Linked DNA regions of Homo sapiens: region 1 is linked to region 2. Evidence: fine-mapped expression QTL. Tissue or cell type: subcutaneous fat. Region 2 holds a variant in brackets; the other region holds the start of a gene. All regions are shown on one strand. Distances are from middle to middle.

Region 1 (8,097 bases), 54 kb before region 2:
CTCAGGTCCCCTCCAACCCTATGACTCCAGGTCCATAGTGTATGAGGCCCTGAGCCCTGCCCAGGCCCGAGCTTCTGATCTCTTCTCTTTAAGAGCTGGGCCTTCAAAGGCCACCTTTGAGCCCCAGATACAACTTCACTGGGATTACCACAGCAACCCAACCCTGCTTTCAGTCCTGAGGCAGAGCCATTCTACTGATCTTCACAAGACCTGAATTACTAGGGCTAGGTTCTCCCCAGAGCCCCTCCCCCACCAACCCCCCTCCCCCCAAAGAAGGCTCTCACATTTGATTTGGAGCCTGCAAGTCTCTGCAGGCTGCTTGGGGTTGGGGGAGGCAGGATGAAGTGAGCTGAGACGCAGACAGGAGGCTGCCAGCCTGCTCTTGCCTTCCCTTCTCTTGTTCCCCCATGAGCGGGGAGGCCCTATCACCCTCTAATGAGTCTGATAAAGCAATTCAATTTTCCAGGCTGGGAGAGAGTGAGGCATGCTGGGAAAGGATGCTGGCTCCTTGGCCTGGACCTGAAGGAGGGTCAGTCCCTGGCAGGAGCTAGAATACCAAAAAGGGAAAGTGTGAGCACCAATGGATAGAACCTTGCCTTGGCCTGGAGCCCCTCACCACAAACAGGTTTCAAAGAAGGAAGATGGAGAGGAGATTGGATGGCTCCAGTCATCCTAAAGAGGCTGAGCCCATACAAAGCTCCCAGTGGGGAAAGGGGAAGGGTAAACGGCTTTGATTTCAGGCTTTCAGCTTCCTACGGACAGGGTCAGCGTCGGCACTCAGAGGGTGAGGACCTTATTATGCGGGTGGAGGGGGGGCCTGGAAAGGGTGCAGGTGCTTGACAGCCTCCATCGGTGCCCCTTTAGAATCTCCCATGGCCCTCTCTTCCTATTCTTTCACCACACCCTCACCCCTGATGAGGGAAACCCGCTGTGGCTGACACCTTCTGTGAACTGGCTTTCAGACAGGTGCTCTTCCCTGACAGCCTGAAGAAGCCAGGGCACTAAGGAGAGGACAAAAGAGAAAAGGTGAAAATGAGGGAAAGAAGCTTGGGGAACTAGGAATTTCCAATAGTGGCTGCTTTGTGGTCTTGCTTAAGCCTGTCAGGTATCAAGGTCTTGGAGGAATGAAGAAGGGAGGGAGTAGGCAGAGTCCCAATGGCAGAGTTAGGCTAGAAGATGTACCTGAGGTCCTGGAATCAACAGGAAGCCCAGAATCAGCTGCCACCCCATCTGCCCACATCACAGCCCCCAGAGCTCAGGGCGAGGTCTGGAGCCAGGATGTTCTAGCACCACCAGAGGGCAGCACCCTCACATCCATGGTAGGCTGTGTCACAGTAGCCTGGGCAGGGGGCTCTCCTATCCTTCCCCGGCTCTGTGTTTTGAGGGAACACCAAGACCTCACACAAAGAAATGATGGGGACAAGTCCCATAGTGCTAACTGCAGCATATCGACTCCCTCAGAGAGGTACACGTAACAGGTGAGCCCAGAGTTCTAGAATAAACCTTCAGCAAGGGTGAGGCATTCTCTGGAGGCCTCAGGACTGAGGCTGAGCTCCCCTCTCCCGAGCTGGTCAGTGCACAGAGCTGGGAGTCCTGGCCCCATGCACCTTTACCCAGCTGCCTCTCTCAGGCTGGGCCCTCTGTTTTTGTCAGCTCTTCCTAGGTTCCTATGCCTGTGTCCCAACTTTCTGATCTTCCTCCCTTCCCTCTTGGCCTCCTTTTTCCCTGGCAGCTTTCTCCCTTTACCCATCTCCCCAGGTGCTCATCACTATCCACAAGCACCGCAGAGTGGAAGCACCAGTTGGGCAGATTTACTAGGATGAGTGGCTGTTTTATTCACTGATGTATTTCCAGTACCCGGAACTGCTTCTGGCATATCGTAGGTATTCAATAAGTGTTCATTGAGTTAATAAGTCAATCAGGGGTGGGATACTATGGGTTTTGTCCCCTTGCCTACTACACTCCCTTTGTTACAATTACTGAGCTCAGTCATCCTGATGAACGGAAAGCAGGGGAGAGACCCCAAGGGACTTTGCCAGGACACGGACCAGATAGGACTTGAAAGTTATTCATTACATTAATATTCTGTGGTTCTTTCTTCCTCACTCCAGTTTCTGGCCTGTCCCGGGTCTTCTCTTCCCAGTCACACTTGGGATATTTCTTTTCACTGCAGCAAACTCAAAGACAGCTAAACTCTGAAATACAAACATCAGTTTCGAGGAGCAGGGACTGGGCACAAAGGGGGTGCCAGTAAATGTGTGTTTCTGATTAACTCACCTCCCCTGCGTGTCAGTACAGATCATCAAAGATCATTGTCATTTTGGTTTTCTGGCCTCATTAATAATGAGACTTTTGCTTGTAAAAATCCCTTGCATTGGCACTGAGCTTTTAACCTTTCCTGAGACACACATAGGCCCTTGTCTTGTTTTTCTCAGTTGAGCTAGGTACTGCCTGATCTGGAACTGGGAAGGTGCACAGGTGTCCAGGGCAGGTGTGTCATTCACCTTTCATTTCTGCCTCAAGATCTCTTTACATCATCCAGACAGGCATGGAGGCTGCCTGAAGCTGTAAAAAAGAAAAAAAAACCCAATGGGGATTAATATGAAGATGTAAAATAGGTTCTGGACTTAACAAAAACAAATGAATCTGGAAATTGCTCTTGGGATAGGGCCAGTAAAGTCCTGTTGGTGCCTACGTTTTGGGTATGGCAGCTTCTCAATCACTTAGCAAACAGGTTCTCAGAGGCAGGCACTGTGGGAGCTATCAAGATGAAAAAGCACAATGCCGCCTGCAGGAGCTCAGGGTTAGGGAGGGGAGAGGAGACATATACACAGGCAAAGTCAAATTGTAATGGGTAGAATAAGAGTAGAAACAGGAAGGGGTCATGAGGCAGGACACGGGCATTTCCTATGTGGACCCCAGAGCAATGACGAGCAAAGGCTTTAACTAATGACTTTTCAGGGCCACCCACCCACTCCACATCCATAAAACATTTCGCGATGAACACAGCCAGAGCTACGGTTTCCTTCCATCCGGCACAAGAAGCGCTTCTCTGCCCAAGGCCACCCCGTCCTCCATTCCATCGCGGGGACTTTGGTGGCTGGGACAGAGGCGGAGAGCATCAAGACCATGGGTGTCTTGGGCTACGTTGGGCCTCCGAGGCGCAGGATGCGGGGCGGGGTGGTCAGAAGGCCCCAACACGGTCCCTGGGAAAGGAGAGGGCAGCCTGATCCTCGCGACAGCGTCTCTACCCTCTTTCTTCCTTGGCCTTCCGTCAGCCGCAGTGAAACGGCAACAGTGCGACCAGCTTGGCGGGGAGGGGGCGAGGGACGAAGCAAGAAGAGCCGGGCGGAGGTTAGAGGTCAGGGGTCGAGAGCGCTTCGGTGTCAGCGGGCTGCGGTGGGAGGAGCTGCGGGCCCGGGGGAGGCGCGGAGCAGGGCTGAGGGGGGCGGGAGGGGTTGCCGGCGGAAGCGCGCAGGGGCGGCGCGCTGGGCTGGGCACTGGCGGCGAGGAGGTGACGCGCTTGGTTGGGGCTCGGCTCCGGGGAGGAAGACTGCGCTCGGTCGCCAGGGCCTGCAGTGAGTCGGATCGGCCCCGCGCTGCGCCGCGCCCCGCCCACCCCGCCCCGCGAAGGGCGCGTCTGGGCGAGGCGGGGCCCCGGAGGAAAAGGCGCCACTGGGGCGTGGCGGCCGCTGCCAGCGCCGGAGGGAGACCATGAGCCCCTAGGGCCCCAGCCCACCGGCGCCGAGGCGCCCCCTCCCCTATGCCACCTCGCGCCCGCCCCCTGCCGCGCGCGAGCCAAGGCCGGCGCCCCGCCCGGAGATGGGCAGACGCGTAGATGGCGTGGCTCCCAGCGCCGCCAGATCGCAGGAACCAGGCGCCGGGGCGTTGCGCTGAGGCTCCCTCTCCGCGCGGCCCGGGAAGCCTGCAGGTGTCCTTGGCCGCTCGGCCGCCGCCCCCGGTACACCTTCGCCAGTGCCCAGAGCCCGGCTCCCCAGAGCGGCCCCGCCCCCCAGGCTCGGCGCCGCGCAGGACGCCCCGTCTGAGGCACCCCCGCCCCAGCGCGGCCCCCGCAGCGCTGCGCCCGGTCCGGCGCAGCTCCCAGCCGCGGACGCAGGACCCGAGGCTCGCTCCTGCGGGCGCGCTTGTTTTCCAGCTGCCGCCTCGCCCTGCGCAGCCCCCGCCCGCCCGGCCGCCGCTCTCTGCTCTGCCCCGCCTGCCTTCCTCGCCCGGCGCTGGATTTATGAATGGGGGGAAGAGGCCACATGCCGCCGCCGCCGCCTCGTGTTGACCGCAAGCAGCCCGGGCCCACGGAGCTCCGGCTGCCGTGAGAGTGTCGGCCTGGCCCCGGCAGCCGCTCGGAGGACTTGTTGCTGCTGCGCTGCCGCCGCTGCGGGGAAGCCGGCTATTCCGGGGCTTGGTGCGGTCTTGGAGCCGGAGGGTGGCCCGTGTGAGCGCGAGCGCCCCGGACCTTCGCGGTGCGCGTGGACTGTGCGCTTCCTCGTCTTTGGTCGGGGTGAAGGCGGGGGCGTGTCCCCGGCCCAGAGCGTTTGTGTGTCCCGTCGTAGCGGGGGACCGCGTGTGTGCTTGCTTCTACTTCCCCGGGTCCTCCCTCTCTGCGCCTCCCTCTCTCCGGAGCTTCCTGCCCTAACCCCAACCACCTGTGTACCGGAGAAATCCAACTCCTCCCGCTCCGCGTCCTAGGGGGATAGGCAGGGGCAAGCCCAAGCCGCAGAGGGGGCCGCCACCGCCTCCTGCCTCCTCTTCGTCTCCTCCCCCTCCCCCGTCTGACGCTGCCTCCTCGGGAAGGGTGTTTGGAGGGCAGCGGCCGCCCCAAGCCGGAGCCCCGCAGCGCTTCTTATGATCAGCTCGGTGTGTGTCTCCTCCTACCGCGGGCGCAAGTCGGGGAACAAGCCTCCGTCCAAAACATGTCTGAAGGAGGAGATGGCCAAGGGCGAGGCGTCGGAGAAGATCATCATCAACGTGGGCGGCACGCGACATGAGACCTACCGCAGCACCCTGCGCACCCTACCGGGAACCCGCCTCGCCTGGCTGGCCGACCCCGACGGCGGGGGCCGGCCCGAGACCGATGGCGGCGGTGTGGGTAGCAGCGGCAGCAGCGGCGGCGGGGGCTGCGAGTTCTTCTTCGACAGGCACCCGGGCGTCTTCGCCTACGTGCTCAACTACTACCGCACCGGCAAGCTGCACTGCCCCGCGGACGTGTGCGGGCCGCTCTTCGAAGAGGAGCTCACCTTCTGGGGCATCGACGAGACCGACGTGGAACCCTGCTGCTGGATGACCTACCGGCAGCACCGCGACGCCGAGGAGGCGCTCGACATCTTCGAGAGCCCGGACGGAGGCGGCAGCGGCGCGGGGCCCAGCGACGAGGCCGGCGACGATGAGCGGGAGCTGGCCCTGCAGCGACTGGGCCCCCACGAGGGAGGCGCGGGCCATGGCGCCGGGTCTGGGGGCTGCCGCGGCTGGCAGCCCCGCATGTGGGCGCTCTTCGAGGATCCCTACTCCTCCCGGGCCGCTAGGGTGAGTGGCAGGAGCCCGTGTCTCCCCATCTTGGGTCTGCAAGGGGTCCGTGGTGGGTGGTGGGTAGGGGCCGGGAGGAGCAGGGACCGAGCCTGACTTACCTTACCACCGCAGATTGTTCCCGCCTTCCTCTCAACCCCCCTCCGTGGCTCGCAGGGGAATTACACACTCCCACCCTCTCCCCTGCACGCTCCATCAGGAGATTGCACACACTTGACTTACTACTTGGACCCAGTCCCAGCTGCCTGCTTTGCCGCATCCCCTCCAGTGAGTGGGGTGCCCAGCTCAGCTCCTCCACCCCCTTCTTTGGTCTGCACAGGCTGCCCTATCTTCAGCTGCCCTCCACTCCACACAGGACTACGGTCCTGGAAGAGCTGGAATTTGGTCTTCTGATGGGGGCAGGCAGGGTTGAGAGGAAGGAAACTAGGGTGGGTTTTGTTAGATGCTTCCATGCCGTGCCACCTCATTTACATCCTCCCAGCAGCTCAGTGTGCTCACAACTATGCACTTCAGAGAGGAGGATATAGGCTTCAGCATCTTAAGCTCAGAAGAGGCAAAGCTGAGACCACAATCCGGCCTCCTTTCCAGGTTTAAGAAAGGCATTCTTTCTGCCAGGGAGGATACCATGCCCCTGAGGCTTCCTGCACACCTGGGATGTCCTGGCCTCAGCTGGGGTGAGAGGAGAATTAAACACGAAGGGCCTAGCGTTCTAGGCTCTGCAGGCTCCCACGGCCAGTGGCCAGCCACAGGCTTCCTGGTGATGATACCAGATTTTTGTTGCCGCTTCTTTTCTTTCTGCTGCAGCACAAACTGTCTTTCCAGAAAGCCCTGGTTCAGGTTACTGCTTGAAATGGGTGTATGAGGGAAGGGGGAAGCACAGGTTGATTTAGGCAAGACCTACCGCCTCCTCCCCAAGTAAATCCAGTTTCCCTAACTCCTTTAGGTGAAAGGGGAGAACGGGGGAGGTGCTTCCCCCATTATGCTTCGACAGCTAAAAAAAAAAAAAAAAAAAAAAAAAAATCCCTGAAGGATGGCTTTAGATTCTTTAAAGAAAGAAAACTCTGGGGGCTGGTGTCGGATCTCATGGTCAGCAGCCTAAAGCCTGGCTGGAGTCTGTCTGGGAGACAGGAAAGAGCAATGTAACTTGTTGGGTCTGGGGACTGCTGCTTGCTGTGGAACCTGGTTGGTTCCTCCAGCATCCCAAATTGTCATGTTAATGAGTCTCAGAGCACCCTCCCTTTCCCAGCACCCCTGTGCTGGACTCCTTCCTAGTCATAGAAGAAGGCAGGGTAGGGAATTGGGGAACAGGCCTGCAGGGAAAAGCCAGGCTGGCATAAATGCCAGGCCAGGGCAGATGCATCTTCTGCCTGGAAGAGAAGGGAGGAGCAGAGGTCTCAGGGGCCATGGCATACCGGGCTGGGGCTGCAGGCAGCCACGAGAAGGCAGGGATCTTTCTCAGGACTGACAACAAAGCTAGAGGCAACTGTCTGGGTTTCTTTCCTTGCAGCCCTGAGACTGGCTAAGAAGGTGAGGGCATAGTGATGCCCCTGGCCTGGGTCTGCTGTGAGTTCTACAGACTTCTCATGTAGGTCACTAACCTTGCTAGTGTTAGCACTTGGCTGTCTGCATTAGGGGAGAGAGGGCAGGCACACATCATTCAGACTCTTTCAAAGTTGGGGGTCGGGGAGGAGAGATAGAGATAGAGATGGGGAAAGGGGACAAACCAGGGAAGCAGGGATGAGATGAGGTGGTTAGGGGAGCTAGGCCCTATTTCTGAGCATTCTGGGACTTCTAGGGGCTTTTCACCTGCTCTTCTTCCCCTCTGGAATTCCAGGTGGCACCCCACATATCATTGAGTTTATTTTCTTCCTAACTCACTGCTGAATGGCCAAGCCAGGGGGCCTCTTTGAGTAAGCTCAGAGCCTGGCCTGCCCCTGGAAGTCTTCCCAGGAACCCAGGGTGCTTTGCCCCTTTGACATGGAATCACATCAGCCCAGGCATTCCAGTTGAGGTCTTGAAGTTTATGATGGAGCAAGGTTAATTCTTCCATTTAAACATTGAGAAAACCAGGATTCAGAGACATTAAGTTTCTTGCCAAAGACATTTAACTAATAGCAGAGGCAGGAAACCACCCCTAGTTTCCAGCCTTCTGGTTGTTCATCCTGATGTGAATATCTGGATGGAGCTCTGGCCAACACATGCACTAAAAGAGGACTTGCCTCCTGCTCAGGAGCCCAGGCAAAGGCAACCCTCACCTGCTCCCGGGACACACAAGTGGGAATACATAATTTTTACAAATTAATGAATAACTGCTCATTATTGAGCACCCCAGACAGATACATTGCTGTATATACTTTACATTAATCTCTAATCCTCCCAATAAACTTAAAACCCGGTGATTATCCCCGTTTAATAGATTGAGGCTGTGAGAAGGTAAACAACTTGCCTGAGATCACACAGCCAGATAGTGGCCAGGCTTTGAATCAAAGCCAGAGTCCCTGACTCCCAAGCCCTTGCTCTTGTGATTACAACACCTTCTTTCCACTGAACTAGGCTGTT
Region 2 (8,102 bases):
CTCCTGAACTAGGAACAGGGGGGCTTTTCCCTCTCTTTATCAAACCATTTAGGGCATAAGGGTGCTTCCCACTGAAAGCCCCATGGATTGCAGATCTTGAAAATCCTTTGGGATCTGTAAGATGTTAGGACTTTGTAAAGAGGAATTGATGATCTTAGACTAGATAGTGTGAGAAAAAAAGAGGAAATGATGAATATATCATCTATCAGGTTTCAGGTTTTTCTCAATCAACCAACATCTTTTCAAATGCCTACCATGTGTCTATATAACTTTCACAAAATGAACAAATGTCTTTAAAAGATTCCTGCAAAGAAATTCGGGTTGGAGATAATATCAATAGTAAAAGCATAAAAAACAAAAAGAATATTTCTGGGGTGACCCTTTTCTTTCTTTATAAGTTCTTTGTTAGCCACTTTATAAGGCAAAAGCAATGAGAATCCAATCAGATCTGAAAAGAAGTTGACAGAAAAATGCAACATTTAAAAAACAATTGTCTCTTTGGGAGGTCGAGGTGGGTGGATCACGAGGTCAGGAGATCGAGACAATCCTGGCTAACACGGTGAAACCCCATCTCTACTAAAAATACAAAAAATTAGCCGGGCACGGAGACGTGCGCTTGTAGTCCCAGCTACTCGGGAGGCTGAGGGAGGAGAATGGTGTGAACCGGGGAGGCGGAGCTTGCAGTGAGCCGAGATCGCGCCACTGCACTCCAGCCTGGGTGACGCAGCGAGACTCCGTCTCAAAAAAATAAATAAATAAAAAGCAAAAACAATTCTCTGAAACATGGTTGCCATTTATTATTGTTAATGAAGGATATTGTCCTAAGAGTTTTTGTCTTGAGATATTAGCTAATGATAGCAGAAAATTTCCCAATTAGTAAGATATTTAAAAATTAAGCATCTAGACCATGAAGAAAAACTTTCTCAATTTTTTCATTGATGCTTGAAGTCATTACAATGCTTAATCCGGTATTTAACATTTCATTAAATCTAATGATAAACATATGCGTGAATCCTTTAGTGTTCTTAGTAATTGCAAAACACAAAAAGCCATATGCCCTTAGGGAAACACTTGCTTTTTCTACCATGAAAAATGGCTGAAATAAGACATGAAAAACAATATGGCAATAAAAAATGCAATCTTTTGTCAGCAGGCATTATTGACAGATGCATAAAAAACATTGCTGAAAAAATTTTAAATGAATATTAGGACAAAGTATGCCTGATAGGAAATCTGCTATATATTTGATTTAAAGTATAGAGATTTCTAACATCTCAGTTAATGGGATTTGCTACATTTTGTTGAAATACGAGAATTATATGATAAAGCACTATTTTTGAGCCACTAAAGGGAGGATGAGTGGGAAAAGAGTAAATGACTTCCCTAATAAAAACGCTTTATAGAAAAAGTATTGACTGGAATAAAAAGAGGGATCTGGTGTGGTTACAAAGATAGAACCACACTTAATATTCCTTTACTGGGCAGCAAAGAAGTTAAAGCCATATGTGCACAAAATGCTGTGTTGTCATTGATGATGTTAATTTTATAAAAAGAAGGTCTGTAAAATATAACAGAATTCTTATAACACTTTGAAATGGGATATGGAGTGACCAGGGAGGTCTTTTGATTCCCATAAAGGTTTACCAATTTTCTCATGGCAAGTACTTAAGGTTTATCAAAATTAAAAAGTTACTTGTTTTTCTTATACAAAACAACAAGCATTCCATTTTAAAGGTGATGCTTTATTATCTTTTAAAAATTGATGACATGCTAAGGAAAAAACATTTGAAAACAGATGTTTAGATGTTTCCATCATTACACAATTTTGCCCAAAGCACTGTTTTGTAATACCTTTAAATCTCTCATACCTGTACACTTAAAAAAGGATTGGAAACAAAATTTTCTACCTTATTTTAAAATCTTGTGAATGAGGCCATATGTTTTGATTCCATTTTATTAGAACTATAAAGATATAATTATATAATAAATGCTTATAAAATACAAAGTTATAAAAATATTTGTTTGCTTAAAAGAACAGACTCTGGGTGCTATAGCAATTATGTGATGCTTATTGTATACTGCCTTAGACTTCTGGCTTCTTATCTTGAACACCTGACCTCAAGCCATCCTTGAGCGCTGGGATTACAGGCATGAGCCGCTGCACCCAGCCAACCTCTGGCTTCTTATGGAGTACTTTGTCTTTTGATGCAACTGGGAGCTCAGTGACTGCATCTTCTTCTTTCTGTGCCTTTCCTCTTCCCTAACTTCCCCAACCCTACCCTGCCCCAGTGCCTACCTCTTTGATCTGCAGCCGCTGCATTTGTGAAAGTGAATTTGAAGTTCAGGCCAATAGGGAGTTTCCAGTTCTTGTATCATACATTTTAAGGTCCATTTACTTGACCTACTCTGGCTCCCAGAAGCCCATAGGATAAGCTCTAATTTCTTAGCAATACAGCTGTCCTTCTGCCTCACTGTCTCTATCAACCTTGTCAAACCCACCTTTCTCCAATACTTCTCCAGAAGCCCTTCCTCTCCCCTACTAAGTGGAGGTCTAGATTTGTGACAAGGTACTTCTTAGGTCCCATTTCTTCGGCCCTCACCCCCTCCTTTTGGTCTTTTCCTCCTCTGAGGGCTTTCCTATAGTGCTTACCTGCACAGTCAGGACTGATAATAAGCATTTGTCGTGATGAGGACGTCCTGTCTTTCCCGCCTGTCAAGCCTTGAGCATCTGTGGTGAGACTCCGCGTAACCCCATCACCTAGGATAGCCCTGTGAACAACAGAGGATGCTGTGCACAGGCCCTGTCAGGAAATGCTCATTGGTGACAGCATGACCTCTGGTGTCTGTTTCATGACCTGTTTGCATCTGTCACTTGCACATTTTTCTGTGGTGGAGGGAGTTGCCATGTGCTGTGGTTCTAGAATGGCTGCCTGCCTGGTGGCAAAGGGAACATGTGGGTCAGCAGTGGTGGGGCTTTTCAACCTGTTTTGGGGACAGCCAGCTATCCTGAGCCCAGGAAACTGAGGGCTGGATGCTGGCTCATCCCTTGGGTAAGAGATACGGTAATAACAGCTGTTCTGGGCCAAAATACATTTAGTGACATCTTGGGAGATTTTGGTGCATGAGGCATGCTTTAAAAATACATGAGAATTTAAGGGTTTTTTTTTTTCCCACATCTGCTGAGGAAACATGTCCACACATCTAGGCTAATATTAGGGCTGTTTATTTCCTAGGGTTGACATTTCCTTGGCTGTCTAAGATTGCTGCTGGAGATAGAATGACCGATATTCACTTTGGCATCCTTCAGCCAGAAAGGATGATCAAGGTTAAATAGGAGCACGTTTGGGCAACACAGACAGACAGACACCCAGAAATATGTACGCCACTCCAAACAGGGTCATCATCTGACCCACAGTGTTGCTGGGGCTCAAAGTGGCCCTTACATAAAGGACTCCAGTTTAGAGGGTACATTTCATATGGGAGACTGATTGAGAGGTTCAAAAATCCAGTTTTATACATAGAATAAGAAACAGTTCTTCCCGTGGGAAAGACTACTTTGGGGAACAAATTGAGGCCTGGAAGGCAACCAGCCTTCCTCTCTAAAAAAAAAACAATCTCTAGCAAGCTTTCAGTGAGGGGGGGGAGCTGAATGGGGGTCTCCATTTGGGGAGAGTCCTTCTCAAGCATCTCTACCTCTGGGCTTTTTCTCTCCTCTGGGTACAAAGCTCCCCCATTCTCCCTGGTCAAATGGATGGGGTGGGGGAATCTCTTTCCCATGTTATTCTTGGTACAACTGAAGAATTCCAAAAGGGACTTTGCATACAAAAAAAGAGAAAAGGTGTTTTTTTAACTGAACAGGTGTCTTCTGGCCCCGGGCAGTAAAGCCAAACACTGACATTGGGACTGCAATGAAAGAAACCGAGGCATTTATTGTAGGGCACCAAGCAAGGAGAATTGGGCCACTAATGCTTAAACCCTGAAGTCCTCAGTGGCTTACAGGTAAGAGTTTTTGAAGGCAAGGAGACGGAGGTTACAGGCAAAGTCATAAATCAATACATAGAGTCTGTGCATTGGTTTGACCTAAAAAGGCAAGACATCTCAAAGTGGAGGAGAGAGGAACAGGTCATAGGTGGATTCAAAGATTTTTTTGATTTGTGATTGGTTAAGGAGGCTTTGTCTAAAAATTTGGAAGCAAGCAGAAAAGAATTATTAGCTCTGGCTCATGGGCATGACCTCCTCCAAGCCCTTCAGGAAGAATTTTAGAAGAAAGAACAGAGGTCAGAGTTCAGTCCTTAGTCCCCCCTTATCTGAGGTCGATATGCCAGCAGATCCATTTAGTAGGGGTCCGGGTTTCTGAAAAACAACTCAGGAACATATGTTGAGATGTTATCTTTAGTTTCTAAAGGGAACCAAAC[A/G]TGACTTTAACTTCCTTGGCTATTGTTTTAAGCCACTGTTACCTTCCTGCTTACCAAGTTGCTTATTTACTTCTCAAGGCTAGCTAGGAGCCTGCAATTTTCCTGGAAGGAACTCAAGATTTTTCTTTATTTAGACCCCTAAGAGGGATCCCTACTCGTCTCTGGAGAAGGAGGGGGAGAAAGAAGGGAGAGAGCTGGCTGGGCGCAGTGGCTCATGCCTGTAATTCCAGCACTTTGGGAGGCCAAGACAGGCGGATGGCTTAAGGTCGGGAGTTCGAAACCAGCCTGGTCAACACGGTGAAACCCCATCTCTACTAAAAATACAAAAATTGTCCAGGCATGGTGGCACACACCTGTAATCTCAACTACTCGGAGGCTGGGGCGGGAGAATCACTTGAACCCGGGAGGCGGAGGTTGCAGTGAGCCGAGATTGTGCCACTGCACTCCAGCCTGGGCAACAGAACCAAGACTCTGTCTCAGAAAAAAAAAAAAAAAAAGGTGGGGGAGAGTGAAAGAAAATAAAGTACAAAACCACTTGCAATCAAAACAGAATTTATTGATGCTATACTAGTAACTTCTTTTACCCTGTCCCTTCCCCCACACTCTGAGCATCTTCAGAGAAAGATCTCGTTTATAGTGTTCAGGTTCTTCCTAGGCTAGAAGCCTCGGAAAAATAAGTTTACAAGTGGCTGATGAGTGAACAGTAGAACTCTCAGGCTCCCTGAGTTTCCAGCAGCAGAAATAAAACATAAATAAAATAAAATAAAATAAAATAAAATAAAATAAAATAAAATAAAATAAAATAAAATAAAATAAAATATTCCCCACCCAGAGGATGGCCCCTAGCAGTCAGGTTTTAGGCTGCTAGAAGAGGGCTCCCAAAGGAGCTTTTAGAGAGGGCTGCCCAAGAAGTCATCCAGGCCCCTGTTCCCAGGCAACACTGAGGAACTCTGCACTCCTCTGGGCTGCTTGAGTTTCTTGCATTACAACAGTACTTATGTCAAAAAGTTAACCATCTCTGGTTTGGAGAGAAAGGCCCAATAGTCATCATCTTCCATTTTAGCACCAGGGAGCCTGTTCTGGGGCCCCGAAGAGGAACTCAGAGCCAGGGAAGAGGCCCTTGGAGGTGGGTAGGACAGGGTAGGTCCTGCCCAGCACTAGACCCTCTCCTCCTGAAAACACGGAGAAACTGGGCTGGTGGTGCTCCAGCCCCAGAGAGGCCCTTGGTTCCTTTGTTGACCCTCCCAAGTGACTTGTTGCACCTACCTTCCTACCTTGTTTGTCATTTGTTCATTCATTCATTCTTTCAGCACAGATAGACCCAGCCTACCATGTGATAACACTAAACCTCAGAGCACCGCAGGAATACAAAAGAAATACATGTAGCCTTGTTCCCTTTTCACATAGAGAGCTAGGGACAGGGTGGGGACTGCCTCTTGAAGTTCCATGAAGGCAGAAGAGGCACTGTGGAGCATTTAATAGATGCAGGCATTCTTCTGCTTAAGTACAATTCACCCAATTCCCCCGACAGCTCTGGAAATAGGGGGAGAAATAATGGGCAGGGAAGCAAGTTAAGTGGCTGATCAGGGACACAAGTACTGGCTTTGTGGTAACCAGATCCCAACACTGTTGCATGGGGAGAGAGTCTCAGTTGACTGAAAGGATCAGATATTGAAACATTCATAGCCGCAACACCGAAACTGCACCCTGGAGGGCTGAGTGAGGAGGGGAGGGGCTGGAGTGCAGAACAAACCTGGTCCCACAAATAAATCCAGCCCCAGGACATCACTTTCCTAATGAGAAGCAGCAAGAATTTCTGCAAGGTTTTTGGAAGACCCTTTGGAAACAGTCATTCATTGTTGGTAACCCTCACTGAGTCCTTAGGAACAGCCAGGCTTGCTCTAAGCACTTTACATGGGATAACTCCTTTAGTCTCCCTAGCAACCCTAGGAAGTAGGTACTATTACTATTCTCATTTTGCTAATGAGGAAAGGTAAAACGACTTGCCCAAGGGCACAGAACCTTTAAGTGGCAGGGCTGGGATTTGAACCCAGCCTAGCTCCAGCCTCTGCTCCTAGCTATAAGTCTGCCACAGCTGTTGTTGCCATTCTTGATCCAGATTGGCCCCCTTGCTCTTTGTATGGGCCCCATTTCTTCCCCTTAAGTCTTGGCATCTGTACCCCAAGGGACCCGAATACCAGGAGAGACCTAAAGTCTGTGTTCCCCGGACCCGAGGACCCCGTGCCTTGATGTGCCATTGTCATGGGGATGTTTGCCCCTTCTGATGTCTCCTTCTTAGCTCCTGGTTAGTTCTCTTGAAGCATCCCACTTTCTCACTTTGGCTTGCAGGGCAGGCTGAGCAAACACCATCTGCCAAGAGGCCTGCAGCAAAACAAACTGCAGCAGCCCCAGAGGTCTTGTAGCTTCCATTTAGCAAGCAGCCCGCACGCCTCTGTGGGCAGAACCCTTGGGGAGAGGGCTGCTATTCATCACTTGTTTGGCTGTGGGAGGCTCAGCAGTCTGTGTAGGGTGGGCTTTGCTGGGGAGAAAGGTGCTGGTTTTCTGAGAGCTGAGGAGGCCACTGGGAAGGTTTGGGGCCCAGGAGGGCTGCTGCTGGACTCCAGGTTGCTCAGGATCAACGTCTTTTCTCCATTCTGATGCAGAAGAACCATGTGCTTGCTTGTTTGCTATTTATACTGCAGTTGCTGTCTAGGGGTTTTCTTTGAAGGGAATGAATAGACTCTGAGGCTCTAAGTACATTTCTGGCTCAGTGCTGTGCTGCACACACCTCAGTTCAGCTGATACGAGGCCCGTCCTTATTCCCCGCTGCCTCCATGTCCTTCTGGAATCCGTACATTCCAGATAGCACCACTCCCCAATGCCTCCACCGCCCACATGAACACACTCCTAAGTACATTTACAATCCGGCTCCTGCTTCCTTCCCTGGCCAGCAAAACTTCATTTCAGCCTCTCTTAGGATTAGGTTATGCCCTTAGCCATCATCTTATTCTGTTCCTTTTAGCAAGATGCGAACCTCTACATTCTGTCATTCTTAATCCTCCTTGCCCCACTTCCTATGTATCTCACCACCAGGAAGGGACTGAAATCGCCTTTGCAGAATTATAAGTAATGAGAGAAATCTAACATGACAGACTCCATCTTGCTTCTAACCTCACAGGCTAAATTGGTTTTTTGCTTATTCTAGTCTGGAGGCCAATATAACTATGAGAGGAATTTGGTTTACAGTTAAACTTTGAGGCCAGAAAAACTGCCCCTTCCTTGTTCAGAGATTGAAGTCGCATTCGTAATACATGGTTAGAATCATGGTAAGGGCTCTAACTTTGCTGAAGAATAGGCATAGTTAAGCAATAACCTGCCATGACTTAGCATGCTTTTCTAGAAGTTTTTTACTACCCCCGAGTCATGTAAGCAGGGGTCACAAGATTTATAACTTCCCCAGCTATTCCTATATAACATCACTATTGTGAAACCTAAAGAACTTCCCCATATGTATCTGAGATATTTTTGAGATTTTTTTTCAGATTTGGCATTTTGGCAGACCAAGAGATAGATGCCACCTGGTCTTGAGACCCCCTCCCAGTACCTGACTCAGCTGCACAAAGGCAGCTTTAGACACCCCTGTGATCTTATCCCCTGTCAATCAATTGTTTCAATTCTCCAGCCCCC

Alleles and levels. Alleles are on the strand shown, and positions count from the first base shown. SD is a standard deviation of normalised expression in the study named.
As copies of A replace G in region 2, the expression in subcutaneous fat of the gene that starts at base 3,675 in region 1 goes down (small effect, 0.33 SD a copy in GTEx).

What was found. PIP is the estimated chance that this variant, and not a neighbour inherited with it, causes the effect.
Region 1: KCNC4 starts here. The variant in region 2 is fine-mapped to the expression of KCNC4 in subcutaneous fat (GTEx, PIP above 0.99).

The regions. Positions count from the first base shown.
Region 1 is chr1:110,206,640-110,214,736 of GRCh38, forward strand. It overlaps KCNC4 (potassium voltage-gated channel subfamily C member 4), which reads left to right and starts at 3,675. Exons shown (of 4, transcript NM_001039574.3): 1 at 3,675-5,538. The coding sequence starts at 4,861. It overlaps KCNC4-DT (KCNC4 divergent transcript), which reads right to left and starts at 3,348. Exons shown (of 2, transcript NR_046546.1): 1 at 2,972-3,348; 2 at 1,811-2,565. RefSeq lists silencers at 1,273-1,332, 1,343-1,392, 3,355-4,034 and an enhancer at 5,272-6,160.
Region 2 is chr1:110,260,189-110,268,290 of GRCh38, forward strand. It overlaps a transcript of KCNC4 not described here. Among named protein-coding and RNA genes, the nearest start is that of KCNC4, 54 kb to the left of the region's middle. RefSeq lists an enhancer at 2,680-2,759. The variant A/G (reference allele first, on the strand shown) is at 4,416.